Linked DNA regions of Homo sapiens: all the other regions are reported to be linked to region 1. The links are microRNA targets in miRTarBase. Many come from high-throughput screens and were not tested one by one. Region 1 holds a microRNA gene; each other region holds the end of a gene's coding sequence.
What was found. Region 1 holds the annotated microRNA hsa-miR-1277-5p (AAAUAUAUAUAUAUAUGUACGUAU, at 2,907-2,930, shown strand). A microRNA usually pairs through its seed, bases 2 to 8, with sites in the 3' UTR of a target mRNA and lowers its output. Matches are read on the target gene's strand: a 7mer-m8 pairs with bases 2 to 8, a 7mer-A1 pairs with bases 2 to 7 and ends in A, and an 8mer does both.

Region 2: miRTarBase lists RGMB as a target of hsa-miR-1277-5p. Seed matches in the 3' UTR shown: 7mer-m8 at 3,622-3,628, 7mer-m8 at 3,609-3,615, 8mer at 3,397-3,404 and 7mer-m8 at 3,021-3,027.
Region 3: the mRNA of SPPL3 is a reported target of hsa-miR-1277-5p. The part of its 3' UTR that is shown has no 7-base or 8-base seed match.
Region 4: the mRNA of PPIP5K2 is a reported target of hsa-miR-1277-5p. Seed matches in the 3' UTR shown: 8mer at 889-896, 7mer-m8 at 919-925, 8mer at 1,555-1,562, 8mer at 1,960-1,967 and 8mer at 3,463-3,470.

Annotation. Positions count from the first base shown.
Region 1 is chrX:118,383,495-118,387,646 of GRCh38, forward strand. It overlaps MIR1277 (microRNA 1277), which reads left to right and starts at 2,900; the gene lies at 2,900-2,977. It overlaps WDR44 (WD repeat domain 44), which reads left to right. Exons shown (of 20, transcript NM_019045.5): 3 at 3,846-3,920.
Region 2 is chr5:98,793,436-98,797,435 of GRCh38, reverse strand. RGMB (repulsive guidance molecule BMP co-receptor b) reads right to left here. Exons shown (of 3, transcript NM_001366508.1): 3 at 942-4,000. The coding sequence ends at 3,683. Among named protein-coding and RNA genes, the nearest start is that of RGMB, 22 kb to the right of the region's middle.
Region 3 is chr12:120,761,724-120,765,723 of GRCh38, forward strand. SPPL3 (signal peptide peptidase like 3) reads right to left here. Exons shown (of 11, transcript NM_139015.5): 11 at 787-3,347. The coding sequence ends at 3,276. Among named protein-coding and RNA genes, the nearest start is that of ACADS, 38 kb to the left of the region's middle. RefSeq lists a silencer at 1,375-1,538.
Region 4 is chr5:103,201,386-103,205,385 of GRCh38, forward strand. It overlaps PPIP5K2 (diphosphoinositol pentakisphosphate kinase 2), which reads left to right. Exons shown (of 31, transcript NM_001276277.3): 31 at 137-4,000. The coding sequence ends at 249. Among named protein-coding and RNA genes, the nearest start is that of MACIR, 55 kb to the right of the region's middle.

The DNA of each region.
Region 1 (4,152 bases):
TTAGGGAAAATATCCACAGAATTATGCTGTACAATGCTTCTGATTTTCCTACTGATAAACAGTTATTAGAAAATAATTGGATAAAAATAATTAGTAGGACAGTTGAAGGTGTTTCTCTAATATGCATTAACTGTTATTTATTTATTTATTTTTTTCTTTTTTCCTGCGGACCCCGTTCTGCTGAGAGCATCAACTATTCTTAATGGTGATCAGCTTCCAAGTATTCTTTTTTTTTTTTTTTTTGGAGACAGAGTCTCGCTCTGTCCCAGGCTGGACCAAGTATTCTCTTAATGGTGATCAGCTTCCAAGTATTCTCTCTCCACCTTGTCAAGGTTATCTTATCAATTGGTCTTGGTTAGATTTTTATTTCTTTTTTTTAATTTCTTTTTTTTTTTTTTTTTTTGAGACAGGGTCTTGCTTTCTTCCCCAGGCTGGAATGCAGTGGCATTATCATAGCTCACTGCAGCCTCAGGCTCCTAGGCTCAAGTAGTCCTCCCACAACAACCTCCAAAGTAGCTGGGACTGCAGGCACATACCACCATGCTTGGCTAATTATTATTTTTTTTAGAGGCGAGGTCTCACTGTGTTGCCCAGGCTGGTCTCAAACTCCGGGTTTCAGCCTGTGCCCGGCCTTCTTTCATATAAAACCAGGATCCAATTAAAGCCTATGTAAACTTAAGATGTATGTATTAACTGAAGAAAAAACAGAGCATGCATCATTCAACATTCATTCAGCAAATGATTATTTAGTGCTGGACACTGTTTTAGGTACTGAACAAACTGTAGATAGAACAAACAAGGTCCATCTCTCATGGAGCTTACATTCTAGTGGGACAGGGAAGAGACAAAAAATAAGCAAGTAAATAAGGTCATTTCGAACGATAAGTGCAATGAAGGAAAATAGGATAATGTTTTCCCAGCACCATTTATTGAGTAGGGAAGCCTTTCCCCATTCTTTGTTTTCATCAGGTTTGTCGAAGATCAGATAGTTGTAGGTGTGCGGTCTTATTTCTGTATTCTCTATTCTGTTCTATTGGTCTGTGTGTCTCTTTTTGTACCAGTACCATGCTGTTTGGTAACTGTAGCACTGTAGCATAGTTTGAAGTCGGGTAGCATGATGCCTCCAGCTTTGTTCTTTTTGCTTAGGATTTGCCTTGGCTATTCAGGCTCTTTTTTGGTTCCCTATGAATTTTAAAATAAAATTTCCTAGTTCTGTGAAGAATCTCAGTGGTAGTTTAATAGTAATGGCATTAAGTCTATACATTGCCTTGGGCAGTGTGGCCATTTTAACGATATTGATTCTTCCTATCCATGAGCTTGGAATGTTTTTCCATTTGTTTGTGTCATCTCTGGTTTCTTTGAGCAGTGGTTTGTAGTTCTCCTTTCACCTCCCTAGTTAGCTGTATTCATAGGTATTTTCTTTTCGTGGCAATTGCAAATGATGGGAGTTTATTCCTGATTTGGCTCTCTGCTTGGCTGTTATTAGTGTATAATAATGCTAGTGATTTTTGCACATTTATTTTGTATCCTGAGACTTTGTTGAAGTTGTTTATCAGCTTAAGAATCTTTTGGGCTGAGACTATGGGTTATCTAGATATAAGATCATGTTGTCTGCAAACAGGGATAGTTTGACATCCTCTCCTCAATCCCATTACTGGGTATATACCCAAAGGAATATAAATCATTCTATTATAAAGACACATGCACACACATGTTCATTGCAGCACTATTCACAATAGCAAAGACATGAAATCAACCTAAATGCCCATCAATGATAGACTGGATAAAGAAAATGTAGTACATATACACCATGGAATACTATGCAGCCATAAAAAAGAACGAGATCATGTCCTTTGCAGGGCCATGGATGGAGCTGGAGGCCATTATCCTTAGCAAATCAATGCAGGAACAGAAAACCAAATACTGCATGTTCTCACTTATAGGTGGGAGCTAAATGATGTGGACACATGAACCCATAGAGGGGAACAACACATGTTGAGGCCTATCAGAGGGTGAAGGGTGGGAGGAGGGAGAGGATCAGGAAAAATGACTAATGTGTACTAGGCTTAATACCTGGGTGATGAAATAATCTGTGCAACAAAACCCCATGACACAAGTTTACCTGTGTAACAAATCTGCACATGTACCCCTGAACTTAAAGTTAAAAAAAAAAAGAAAAATAGGATAATGTGATAGAAAGTTAAGGAGTCAGCTAAGGCTATTTTGAGATGGTCAGGGAAGTATTTTCTGATAAAATAGCACTTGAGCTATGACCCTAATGGCAAGGAATCATCCTATTGGCCAGAATGTAATTGTGGGGGAGTGATATGAGAGGGAGATGAGGAGTGTAGAAGATATCAAAAATGTAGGCAGAGGCTATGTCATGTTTAGGCCTTCATGGGCCTTGGTACTGTTTGGATTTTATCTAATACTTAAGAGTCCATGAAACATTTTTTTTTTTCTAGAAGAATCTGTGTAAGATTGGTAGTATTCTCCAAATTCTGGGGGAGGAATTCAGTGCTCGAAGATATTGCAAGTCCTACAGAAATTTCACTGGCACGTTAAATCTTTAACATTTTAATAATCTCTGGAGTAATTTCATTATTGAGCCTATTGTGATCATATCCTGATACTTGTATAAGTGCCACCTAAATAATTAATGTGCCTTGAGTCCTTTATCTGTCTAAAATGGTTATAATGACCTTCCTCTAACAAACTCTGTGATGTGCACAAAGAATTATGGTTTTTTTTCCTCAGTATCAAGAGTAGCATTCAAATTGCTGTGCTTCTATAAATAGACAACTTAAGATTGAGAAGAGTATTGTATTGAGATTTGCAAATATATGATTGTCTTATTTTACCCTAATTTTTTCCAGCAGAAATGCAGTATCCATTTCTAACCTCCCAAATATATATATATATGTACGTATGTGTATATAAATGTATACGTAGATATATATGTATTTTTGGTGGGTTTAATTTTTTTCATCTTTTTTCATAGTTTTTTTAGGGGCTTCATTTAACTTCTGGTTAAGTCTTGATTTCTTTTATCTAAAGCATGTAGAATTTTAAGAAAACTATTCCCTGAATGTGGTTTTCTGTGTTATAAACTTTTGTATTTGTGCATATTTATGGAGCAATGCTTTGGGGAAAATAACAATTTTTATTCAGCCCCTTGCTTAAATCCTTAATCCTTTTTAGCTATAAAAGTACGTAGAAGTTCTTATCGTCCATTACAGTTTTTTAATGTTAAAAAGTTGAGCAAGTTTTCACATTTAAAGGTAAATATCCTATTGCAGAATAATAGAATATTGCTGATGGGTAACTTTCTTATGCAAATTACATTGTCCCATTTGGCATAAAATTTCTGAGCATCTATCAGTATTCAGAAATCTAAGCCCTTTAGGCTGGGCACAGTGGCTCACACCTATAATCCCAGCACTTTGGGAGGCTGAGGTGGGTAGATCACTTGAGGTCAGGAGTTCAAGACCAGCCTGGCCAACAAGGTGAAACTCTGTCTGTACTAAAATTACAAAAATTAGCCAGGTGTGGTGGCACGCGCCTATAATCCCAGCTACTCGGGAGGCTGAGGCAGGAGAATCACTTGAACCCGGGAAGCAGAGGTTGCAGTGAGCCAGGATTGTGCCACTGCACTCCAGCCTGGGTGACAGAGTAAAACTCTGTCTCAAAAAAAAAAAAAAAAAAAAAAGAAGAAGAAGAAATCAAAGCCCTTTAAGGGCCTTTGATTTATTAATGCTACATTTTCTCATTTGTACCCCTTTAAAGCATATTTTTAAAGAAAAGATGTCATCATTTGGTCTCTATTTCTTTTCTTTTTCAAACAGGAAACAGAGAACACTGCATACAAAGTTGGAAATGAGTCCCCTGTACAAGAATTGAAACAAGATGTGTCTAAAAAGGTTGGAAAGATACAATGTCAATATTAGTTTATAGCAGACATCATATTTATATGGTATATTTCAAACAGCTTTTATATTCTTTTAGTATAGCGCTCTGTACATGGCTGATGTTCAGCAAATGTTTCATGAATCTGTCACATTTGTGGTTGAAGACATTTCAGTCTTTTTAGAAGTCCTTTTCATATTCTAATTGGTAATTTATCCTTGAGACAATATTTTGTAAAATGCTTTT
Region 2 (4,000 bases), not on the chromosome of region 1:
TTTTTGCTCTGAACTGCTACATGTAAATAGTCAACTGCAATGGTTAAGCTTTTTTCTTTAAGAAACGATTATGGCCAGGTGTGGTGGCTCATGCCTGTAATCCCAGCACTTTGGGAGGCTGAAGCAGGCGGATTGCTTGAGTCCAGGAGTCTGAGACCAGCCTGGGCAACATGGTGAAACCCTGCCTTCAGTCTCTACAAAAAATACAAAAATTAGCTGGGGATGGTAGCATGCACTTGTAGCCCCAGCGACTCGGGGGGATCACTTGAACCCTGGAAGTTGAGGCTGTAGTGAGCTGAGACTGCACCACTGCACTCTGGCCTGGGTGACAGAGTGAGACCCTGTCTCCAAAAGAAAAAAAAAAAAAAAGAAGAAATGATTACATGTATGTTTATCCCAGTCAGAATCTGATCCATTTAGTATTCTACCTAATACAAGTAACAGTGCTTCTCTGTGCCTTTTGTTTCAGTTATTTTCCTAACTTTTCTACCCTTTGGTGTGTTTCTTGAACAAAGACCAACTTGTGATCTCTTGATGTCTCTTTTTAAAACCCAAGAAGTGAGGATTTGTTTTCAAAGCCAGAAAATCCTGCCTTCCCAAATCCTCCCCACCAGGAGGAAGTCGTTACTGTTCACATCACCTTAAAAAGAACTAGAGTGCAGGCTGTATGTCTTCAAGGGACCAAAACTGTTACTAAAGACAGAACTTTGGGACAATACTAGTGGACCAATCTCACTGATACGGATTTGTAACTGCTTAAAATTTCAAAAGAAAAAAAATGACAGTAATGCTATAGTTTTGAAAATCAGCGAATTTGTGGGCAGGTGGCATGACTTATCAGTAACCTTTAGGGATTTTATACAATTCCCCCTCCCCCGACTCCCTTTCTTCTGCAGCTCTCAGTTCTTCCAGCAGGTGTCCCTATAATCACAGAACAGACATTCCACAGCAAGGTATGTAACTTTATTTTTCTAGCATAATAATTTAAAGTATTTACACACTGCACACTCACTGTTTTACACAGATACGTATTCATATATCTATGAACCACATCTAAAGGTTTCTTTGCAAAGACTCGACACACTGTTGGGGGGGGGGGAGCTTCCAAGCATAACAAAGAGGACAAAAAAAAGTTTTGAGTCTTTTAAAGACAGCCATGTGGAGCATCTGTGAAAACCAGTGTTTCCCCCGTTTTAAGCTCCCCCAGGAGACCTCTGAACAGCTATAGCCTATCCACATGTTGGTATGACCTGAAATTCTTCTAGCTAAGGTTTCAAGAACCAACATGTGCAAGCAGCATTTTTTCTAGAAATCTCAAAAAAGGAGAAAATAAACCTGGCCCTTACGTAGAGAAATACATCTATTTCTGAAAGTAATCTGTGGGGATTGTTTTACAGGGACACCGATTACAAGGGCAGAATAGCAAAATACACTATTACTAGTGATGCAGGGTGCTTTTAAATGTCACTTCCAGCTAAATGATATGGCAAAATAACCCAATCTTCTTTTCCCAACTATCAGTAAGGGTGGTTGTTATTTTCCCTGAAAAGAGCAAAGGTATATTTATTAATGATACACACTCTAAACCCAGATCCTATAGAAATTTCTTCTATTGCTTTTACTTCACTTTCATATTATTTGCACAAAAATAGTGGTTATCCTCCGTATTTTTTCCTCGCTTGTACTACTCAATTATAAAACAAATTATTAACGATAGCTTCTGAATTTGGTACATGGCATCATAGGTGAACAAAAAAAGCCACAGTTCAGAGCTGATGGTCAGTCCGTCTCTAGTCCAGCTTCTATAAAAGGAAGGCGGGTTTAGGTTTCAACTCTCTATAGTTGAATCTCCATGAGTAAGAAGGAGATGCCTTCCTTATTTTCCCAGACTGCCCAAGATTATTCTCTCATCAACACAAGGTAGAGGTTTGCCACCTCTACATGAATTCACAACTCCACTCTGTGACTGGGTGGCACATCAGTTCGCTAAGAAGTTAAACTTTACAAAATGACGTCCTCTTCCTCTTGCCGGTATGGGCCTCTGGCAGTGTCACTGATCAATAGGACATGGCAAAAGTAACTACCTGGAGAACTAAAACTAAGCATAATCTTGGCCTGAACTACTACGGTAAAGATAGTATCTTTTATTTCTGTTTATGTAAACTTATCAACAAATTATTAAAGCAGAAACTCTATCACTTCTTGGAACTAAAGATTTACATCTAGCTATAACAATAGAAACCTACCTATCCTGGAGTTAACTTTCTCAGATTACTGCTCCTGACTTTTGCTGTTCTTTTCCTTTTGCAAGGGGGTGCCAACAATGGATGGAAGAGGCAAGGAGATCTTACTTTATAGGAATTTCTCCAAGTTACAACGAGCAACTGACCAAATCATATTCAACTACAGGTGTTGAGAGAGAGAGTACCTGACTTCAGACCACCTGGGAAGCACAATGCTTAGTTAACAAGAATATCTGGATTAAGCAGTGCCGAAGTGGCCGCACACCGAGTCAGGCCAAGGAAGCTCTTCTGTCATTGCCGCCCAACTCTGTTCCACTTTGCATGCAGACATATCAAAGACTGTGATGAAGATCATGGTGGACAAGGAAGAATGAAAAACTTTGTGATGGGATCTGGGCCTCTACATTAGAGAAAGAACCTAACAAACCCCAGTTCTTTGGATTCGTAAGGTGAGGCTGAGGAGGGCTTACTGGAGTTGGAGACAGGGAGAGCTGTGTTTCTGGGCTCAAAGCCAAGAAACGGTTAAGAAGAGGGGCTTGCATCAGTCATATAGATTAAAAAGAGCAAGGCATGATAATTACTAAATTTATAGTTTCATGTTTTAACACAGAAGAGTCAGAGGGAAAACTGACAATTTAAAACGGGGCATGGGATGAGAAAAAGTCTAGGAGTTACTGAGATGCCTGGTACTTATCTACAAAACTTCCATCACTAGACCCTTTTGACCTACGAGAATAGCAGTTTCTATGGTTCAACCTAATACACTGTATGGGCTCAAATATATAACAATTAGAATTGAGAGTAATCAGAATACCAATAATACCCCCCCTTCTGAAAAAGTAACAGCTCTTAGATGAAGAGAGCTTCTTAAGATCAGCGTTTAAGAGTCAAAGCACCTGTAAGGGAGAGTTAACGACCCTTTCAAATCAAGTGAGGGCAGAAGGGTGAGGGCATAGTTCAAAGGAACGAGGCAGCTCCACCGGAAGGTGGCGAGTAAAAGCTGCACACCGTGGCAAATCAGTAGCAATGGGAAAGGGCAGGAAGGTACAGCCAAGAATAGCTACAAACAACTGGTCACCTTCAAAGGAAACGCTGCATATGGATGTCTGTGTATATGTACTATACATATCAACCAAGCACACACATAAATATTTAATATATAAAAAATAAAGTGCTTTCTAACAGGTCCCTGGGCAGGGACATTATAAAACATTTCACAGAACTGCAAAACAAAATTGATACAATCAAAGAACACTACATCCAACATATGTGAAAACAGCCAAACACAGTATGTACAATCTGGTGGGTGTCCCAGGACAAACATCCTGTCATATACATGGTATATACATATATACTCTTTTACTCAATATATTATGACAATATATATTTTAAAATTTTGTTATAGACAAAAAATAAAAAACCAAAACAAAAGACAACCCCTACAAAAACACGATAAGGATCAAGCAGGTGAGTCCTAGACTGACAGACAAATCACTGCCTCCACGGGGAGTCCCATTGCCACTGCTGGGGAAAATGTGCCAGCGTTCCTTCCTTGGGTGCAGGGCCTCCACATCCTCCAAGGCACTGTGGGCTGCGGCAGTAAAGTTGGCATCACCAGTGGTGAGCAGGTCGAAGACACAGGACTGGAAATAGATGTCCTTCACTGGCATCTTCTCATGGCATTGAGTGTTGGCAGTCTCCAGTGTGTAGCCAGGCCAGGCCTGCACCAAGGAGGTGCGAGGCAGGCTGTGTCCCAG
Region 3 (4,000 bases), not on the chromosome of region 1:
AAAACAGAAACGTACACACAACATGGGATCTGGTGAGCAGTAACGTGAGAGCTGCTAAGCAGACACAGCAGGTTCTATTTTTAACACTTGATTGGCAAAATGGAACTCCCTTCCCCTCCACCCTCACAGAGAACGAGTACTTTTGTTTTTCTTGTGGGTGACCTAACTTACCTGTTTACCCAAGGCCTGTGAGCCTGCTACAAAAGTAATTCAGACAGTAGCTTAGTCCCAAGCCACCGAACCGTTCCTATGCGGGGAGCTGTCACTGTCACATTCAGAAAGCGTATGCACTGTAATAACAGCAATGGAACACACTAGGCTTTGGACAGACTTTACTGTCATATCTTCATTAGCTCAAACTAGAAAAAAGAGTTATTAAAAAGCGGGAGTTCTAGTAACACACAGTCTCTTTGTGAGGAAAAAGGACTTCAGATCAGTGAGGAAGGAATCTGCTGAAATTTCATGAGCATGCCATGCCTAATGCAGCAGACTTCCTAGAAAACCCCTAAACCATGGTATTTGAGAAAACAGAATAAGAGGCGGACCTAAGTGTATCAGGCAGCGGGGAGCAAACGAGCACTGGAAGGGAAGTCTAATGTGTGCTTTAACTGCAGCCACCCACTCAACCCTCCGAGACGAGTAGAGTATTTGCTGTTTCTCTGCCAAAGTTTTAAGGGAGTGTTTTAAGGGCTTTGAAGATTAGCAACTGGAATCCAGGGTGCATTCACAGCCCTGTGTGGGTATTTCCCCCCAAAACCTGCACAGAAGTGAGAATGACAAAATAACGACGTTCCTTCTGTCTGGAATTTAATTTTCTTATGAAAACAAAGACAGAAAAATTAAAATGACCCACTGCCAGGATAACATTTCCTTTTTTTTTTTTTTTTTGAGATGGAGTCTCACCCTGTCGCCCAGACTTGAGTGCAGTGGCGCAATCTCTGCTCACTGCAACCTCCGCCTTCCAGGTTCAAGCGATTCTTCTGCCTCAGCCTCCCAAATAGCTGGGATTACAGGCGCCTGCCACCATGCCCAGCTAATTTTTGTGTTTTTAGTAGAGACGGGGTTTCACCATGTTGGCCAGGCTGGTCTCGAGCTCCCAACCTTGTGATCCACCTGCCTCGGCCTCCCAAAGTGCTGGGATTACAGGCATGAAGGATAACGTTATTTCTACCCATCACTGGCACTTGCCCTTAATCCGAGTCATTTTGGAGCCCCCCTCTCTGTCTCTGGGCCTGCTTAATTAGCTATATGCATCCTCGAGGGCTGAGAAGGAAGGAAGGGAGAGTCCGCAAGTGGATTTTTAGTCTTCACCCAATGCAGAGGCAGTTTTGAGTTCTGTGGACAGCAGAAGCTTCAGTTCTTTGATGTATCTATGACTGGGCCAGAGCTGCAGATGACCAGGTCTGGGGACAGACAGAGTCTTCCCATCAGTCTTCCAGAACAGGGAGGAGATGGCTGGGAGCTCTGTTTGGTACCAACAACCAAAGTGAAGATTATGTGACAAAGGCTACAAAGGAGTCATTTATTAAAAACAAAACCCCAGAAACCCCTCAGCAGGAATTGATGACAACAACAGAGGAATCCAACACCCTGACTGCTTCAGACTCTGTTGACAACAGGATGGGTGCCCCCTGTGAGCTCGATCCACAGTGACTTCAAGCCACAGTGACACAGCACACTAATTCATTACACAGGTCAAGACAGAGGCAGCCACTGGGGCGGGGACCCTTGGGGAGAGGCTGGAACTCAGGGCCCTTCTCCAGCCTTTGTTGTCAGGCATCCTCATGCCAACCGCAGGCTTCTCTTTGCCTCTGAACAATGGGCACCTTCTTACCAGGCAGGGGCTGCTTAGGTAAAGGTCAGCAGACCTAACACTAGTTACTCCCAGAAATCTGGGCTTGCAGCAGAGACCACAGCACAGGGCCAGGCTCTCAGGACACAGCAGCTGGTTCTTTCCCCAGTTACTGGAATTTAGGGCCCATCTCAGAGGGGCATTTGACATGTGTCCCCAACACCCGGTTGTCACCACAGGTAAACCAAGACTATAATCACAACAGCAAGGACAGGATTGTGTTGCTTTTTTCCTTTTTTTTTTTCTTAAAGGAGTGAGGGCATGGAAAATATACAGCACACCAATGAAACAAAATGTCAAAAAAAAAAATACAAAAAAATAGAAAATAGAAAAATGTATTTACAAGTAGTACGTTACTATGATGAGAAAGCACAAAGACACCTGCTGCTATAATACATGCATTGGCTCGAGAAGAAACTACGGAACACCCTGCGAGGGAGAAGCCTAGAAAAGAAAGAAAGGGCCAAAAGGTTTGAACTCTTCATCCCTAATTTGCTACACTGATCAAAACCAAGTAAGGGCTCCTGAAGTCCATGAGTCTATCATCAATCAGCACAAATGCTATACTAGTTTGTAACTGCGGGGTCAGTTGTGAAGGGGAAGGACAGCAGCTTATCCATATACAAGGAAGCCACAGTAAACTGCTCGACATGCTCAAAACGACAGCAAGCCCCTGTCAGCTACACAGCGTGATCTTAGCAGGATTTCATTTTTGTTTATTCATATATATCTATGTGTGTGTTTATATATATATATGTACGTATGTATAAAAACCGTGCCCTTGTTCACTGCCAACACAACATCTGGGTGGACATGAACTCATTACAACAAATTCTTATGTGGATGTTGTAAGAAGTCACTCAATGTCTGTGGATTTAATAAGTCACTTCACACCACAGAAAATATTTAATAAATCCAAAAAAAGGAAAGAAGAATATAACGACAGAAGAGCTTCTGTCTCAGTTCTCTGAAACTGAGTCCCCTATAGGAAACTGGTCCCAAAGTTCTCGAGGGGTCATTGAAGAAACTTCGGTTTGCTAATTTTTTTCATCCTTTTAGTGTTCAAAAGTTCTAGAAAGACTCCTCGCTGTTTTCAGTTTTTAAACAGTCAAATCTCCATCTCCCCCAGAAGGTAACAGTCTGGTGCAGATCCATAAAAACGTGGGAGGAAGGCGCGCTGGGGAGAGGCCTGTCCCTCTTGGAAGGGGCCCCACCTCTACATCCGCAGGAAGAGAAGGAACCAAACAGGGCTCCAGCACCTCTCTCCTGCAAACGAGCTCCCTTTAAATGCCAAATCCAGTCACACGGCAGTTCCTTAAACACAGGTACATTTCTGAGTACCAGGCCAGCTCTAAGAGGAAACAAACCATGAGTTGAGAGAAAAGGACTATGACGGCCATCTGGTCACTTTCCACGTGATCCATCATACTTCCAGGAATCGGGAGCTGCTGGACTTGGAGTGGAAAGGCTCAGACCACATCCGCCGGAGGTCGCCCTGGGAAACAAGGGACTTTCTAAGTTACAGATTTAAACATGAGGCACACACAGCTGTCTGATTCTTTAAAAAAAAAAAATTTTTTTTCCAGGTATGAAGTCTTCCTATATATTGGCCAGGCTGGTCTCAAACTCCTGGGCTCGGGCAATTCTCCTGCCTCGACCTTCCAAAGTGCTAGGATTACAGGCATGAGCTGCTGCGCTTGGCCCCTTTCTGATATTTTTTTTTTTTGAGATGGGTTCTCACTCTGTCACCTAGGCTGGAGTGAGTGCAGTGGCGAGATCTCAGCTCACTGCAACCTCCGACTCCTGGGTTCAAGCGATTCTCTTGCCTCAGCTTCCTGAGTAGCTGGGATTACAGGCACTCACCACCATGCCCAGTTCATTTTTGTGTTTTTAGTAGAGACAGGGTTTCACCATATTGGCCAGGCTGGTCCTGAACTCTTAACCCGCCTGCCTCAGCCTCCCAAGGTGCGGGGGTTACAGGCGTGAGCCACCATGCCCCTGGCCCCTTTCTGATGCTTGATCTGAGATCAGATTGCTTCTGTGGGAAACCAAAGAGCATTTAAATCTTACCCATTCAAAAATAACCCACTATTTTTAGGAGGACTCCCTAGAAGGGGTGCTTTTAGGCTCCCTGAGCAAGAAAAGGGC
Region 4 (4,000 bases), not on the chromosome of region 1:
TATATTAAATTTTTACATTTCATTTACATCACAATTATAACAAGAATTGTTTTGTCAATCAGCAGTATTATTTGAACTTGGATTGTTTGTGTAAATTTAAGCAATAGTTTTTTTTTTTTGTTTTTGTTTTATGTAGCTACAAGTGGACCTTCTAGTGCAGTTGTTCCTAATACCTCATCTCGGAAAAAGAATATAACTAGCAAAACAGAAACGCATGAACACAAAAAAAACACTGGGAAAAAGAAATGAAATCTTAGCAGAAGCTGGAACTTTTTATACTTATAAAAATAGTATGTTCTTATGTTTCTCCTTATGCATTTATGTGTTCACTTAAAAATGTTTTTAAATCTAAGGTTTTCTTTGTTTATGTTCAGGTAAGGAACTGTTGTCATGATCTGGAAATGTTTAAAACAATGTTTGTTAGCATTCTGTGAGCAGCAAAACTTATAGTGATAAAAATCGATTGTTGTTAATATGATGTTTACCATGTGCACATAGTAATGAAAAGGAACATAAAAGCCCAGCAGGCTCGTACCAAAGTCACAGCAGTAATGCTATGTACTGCAGAGTCTGATGAGCTGGCCTTTGTGCACACTTTTATTTTCATGGGATTGCATCTTAGCTGTTAAAACTTCTAGATTGAAATTTGACAGCCAGGGTTACATATTGGGGACTTTTAAAGTGTCTTTCCAAAGAGATTTCATTAACCGTTTAGATTAGAATATCTTTCCCAATTGTTACAGTGACATATATGCTGCAATATTTAACAACTGGAGTATTAGCCACATGGGTTATTTTTTCAATCTGTGTTTTGAATTTTTTTATTGTGTGTTATTTAAAATATTACATATGCAGCTGGGAGAACTACACCTTTGTGCACATAGATTTATATATTAATTTGTAGAAAATATTTTCTTTATATATTTCCTTACCATACAAGGTGCCTTGTTCATCAGGAAAACTTTTGTTTTGTATTTTGACAAGAAAGGCACCTTCAGAGTTTCTTTTTAAGTATAGTTGACAAGTGTATAAATGTTACACTTACTTTCAGAGTTCTTTTTAGATCTAAAGAAGTCAGTTCAAAAATGGAAATCAACAATGTTAGGAGAAATCTGAATTCTGTTAAGTTAGTAAGTATTATGTATAGCATCTGTTTTTAACCATTTCCATTCTTATCCCTAGTGTATCAGTTGATCACACTAAGAAAGCTTAAAGATTGAGCATTTGAAATAAATGCTCTTTATAAATGATTAGATTTTTGAAGGGATATTGAAATCATTGCGCTGTGATTTCATCTGTGATGTGAAAAATCAATTTATTATCCTTGGTGCTTTCCCCCCCACCAATGCACAAATAATTGTGAACAGCTTGAAATGACTTAAACTGTAATCCAAATGGGACAATCTGATAAGAATTTCATGCATTGGTAGTTAAATAACTTAAATTGCTAAAGCTTTAGCTTGAAATTTATGTTTAGAAAAACTATTGATTTCCCATGGTATGAATATAACTATTGTAATTCTTCAAATGAGACTCTTCTCACCTTAAATAGTCATATATTAATTAACTTATAGGAAATAAGCATACTATATGTTAGCTGTTTTAAAAGGTACCAGATGTAAGAGTCATAAATATATGCAATTAAAGAAGTTCATAGATTTCACATGAATGTAAATGTGTTATATGGAGACATGTCTTGTAAACAGTTGAATGTATGTAAGTTTTCTGTTTGTGAAAATGTAGTTAATGTACTCACTGTGGAGGTCATAAGGAAGCTACTTTTTTTTTAAAGTGGAACCTAATTAAAATATTTCCAGAATCAAAGAGACTTAAATGGTAAATTTTTAAAATTTTCTTATCTCTTACTTTTTAGTTTTCAAAGTAGAAAAAATCAGGAATTTTTTTATTAACTAGTACTTACATATTAAATAAAATTTATTATTGGCTATATACATAGCAATATATTACTTTCCAAACTAGAAAGTACAGTACAACTAACTTTTTCCATTGTTATGCAAGAACTATTACTTTCCTGTAGTCACCAAACTCAGTAGTATTGCTCTGTAGACTAGACACTCTATTTGTAAAAATCTTAGAATCACTTTCCAAAACAAATAAAAAGTCTACTGTATCAGAGCAAAATGTTATAGTTATCACTGTTTAGTGGCAGTTTGACTGAAGCATCTGTTTCTCACTTGATTCTGTCCTGAGAAGATGTGGGATTTTTTGGTTTTAAATACTAGAAGATATTTCTTCTTAGAGCCCAGTCCTCCATCCCAAAGAGGTGAACTAGCCCAGCATGAAGAATTGTCTAGTCACCCTGAGATATTAATCTTCATAATGTATTATTCAGTTCCTTCACCCTTAAAAGCCATATAATAGGCTCAGACCTAACTTAGCCCTTGAAGTCTAGTGCTGGCAGATTCTGCTGCCCTGGTTTAAATGAGTTACGTAGTCCATTCTCAAATACTAGCAAATTTGGGGGGCGTGGTACAGCAATTTTGGGTGAAGAAAAGTGTGCTGAACACCTTATGTCAGTGATAGACAAGATATAGAGGCTGAAGGGAATACAGTAAAGTAACAAAAACATGTGGCAGTGTGCTTAGCATAAACATAGAGCACAAAGGCAATAGATGGAAATTATGAGAGAAAAGTTAAAGTTCTTCAAGAAATATCCAATTAAAACTCACTAGCCAAGGAAAAAGTTTCTGTTTTCACCCGGATTTCTTTTTGGGTTGACTCTGTCTGACCTAAATGTCCACTGTTAACTAGTGCCATGCCAGTTTGAACCAAGATTTCACATTTTTGTTTTGTATTCATACTTTGGTAGAAATTTCTCAGTCTTTGTGTATTTATAAGAATTTGCTTTACACATAGTGTACAGTGTTTATTAACTTTACATCATTTTATCCTTGCCTTACTATCTGGACAGTGTAGACTGCCTATATTCTTAGTTGGGGTTGGGATCTCTTCTCTTAGAGTGGCCCAGCAGTTTTAGCCCCTCTCTAATTCTCTTTTCCTGTGTTGGGAGATATCAAAACAACAGAATTCTTGCCAGTGGGAACATTTTTCTTTTTTAGACAAGGTCTCATTCTGTCACCCCAGCTGGAGTGCAGTGGCACAGTCTTAATTCACTACAGCCTTGAACTCCTGGGCTCAAGAAATCTTTCTGCTTCAGCCTCCTAAATAGCTGGTACTATAGGTGCGTGCCACCACACCCAGCTCATGGGAATAATTTTTACACTCCTTCAGAAGGAGTCATTTGTGATTGGAGTCCACATAGAAACAGGTTTCCCTCTGTACATAATCGTAGGTACCAAAATATTACTGTGTAAAGTGTTGTTTATATAGGTCAATTTTTGTGGAAGATCTAATTTCTATTTTCAGAGAACAGAGCACATTAAAAAATCTATTTAGTATTGTGTACTATATAATCTATGTGAATTATAGCTCCTTAACTAAATATATTACTGAGTTTTTTTTTTAATACTGTAAGTTCTAGGGTACATGTGCACAATGTGCAGGTTTGTTACATAGGTATACATGTGCCATGTTGGTTTGCTGCACCCATGAACTCATCATTTACATTAGGTATTTCTCCTAATGCTATCCCTCCCCCAGCCCCCCACCCACTGACAGGCCCAGTGTGTGATGTTCCCCGCCCTGTGTCCAAGTACTGTTCTCATTGTTCAGTTCCCTCTTATGAGTGAGAACATGCGGTGTTTGGTTTTCTGTCCTTGTGATAGTTTGCTGAGAATGATGGTTTCCAGCTTCATCCATGTCCTTGTCATCCTTTTTTTTGGCTGCATAGTATTCCATGGTGTATATGTGCCACATTTTCTTAATCCAGTCTATCATTGATGGACATCTGGGTTGGTCCCAAGTCTTTGCTATTGTGAATAGTGCCACAATAAACATACGTGTGCATGTGTCTTTATAGTGGCATGATTTATAATCCTTTGGGTATATACCCAGTAATGGGATGGCTGGGTCAAATGGT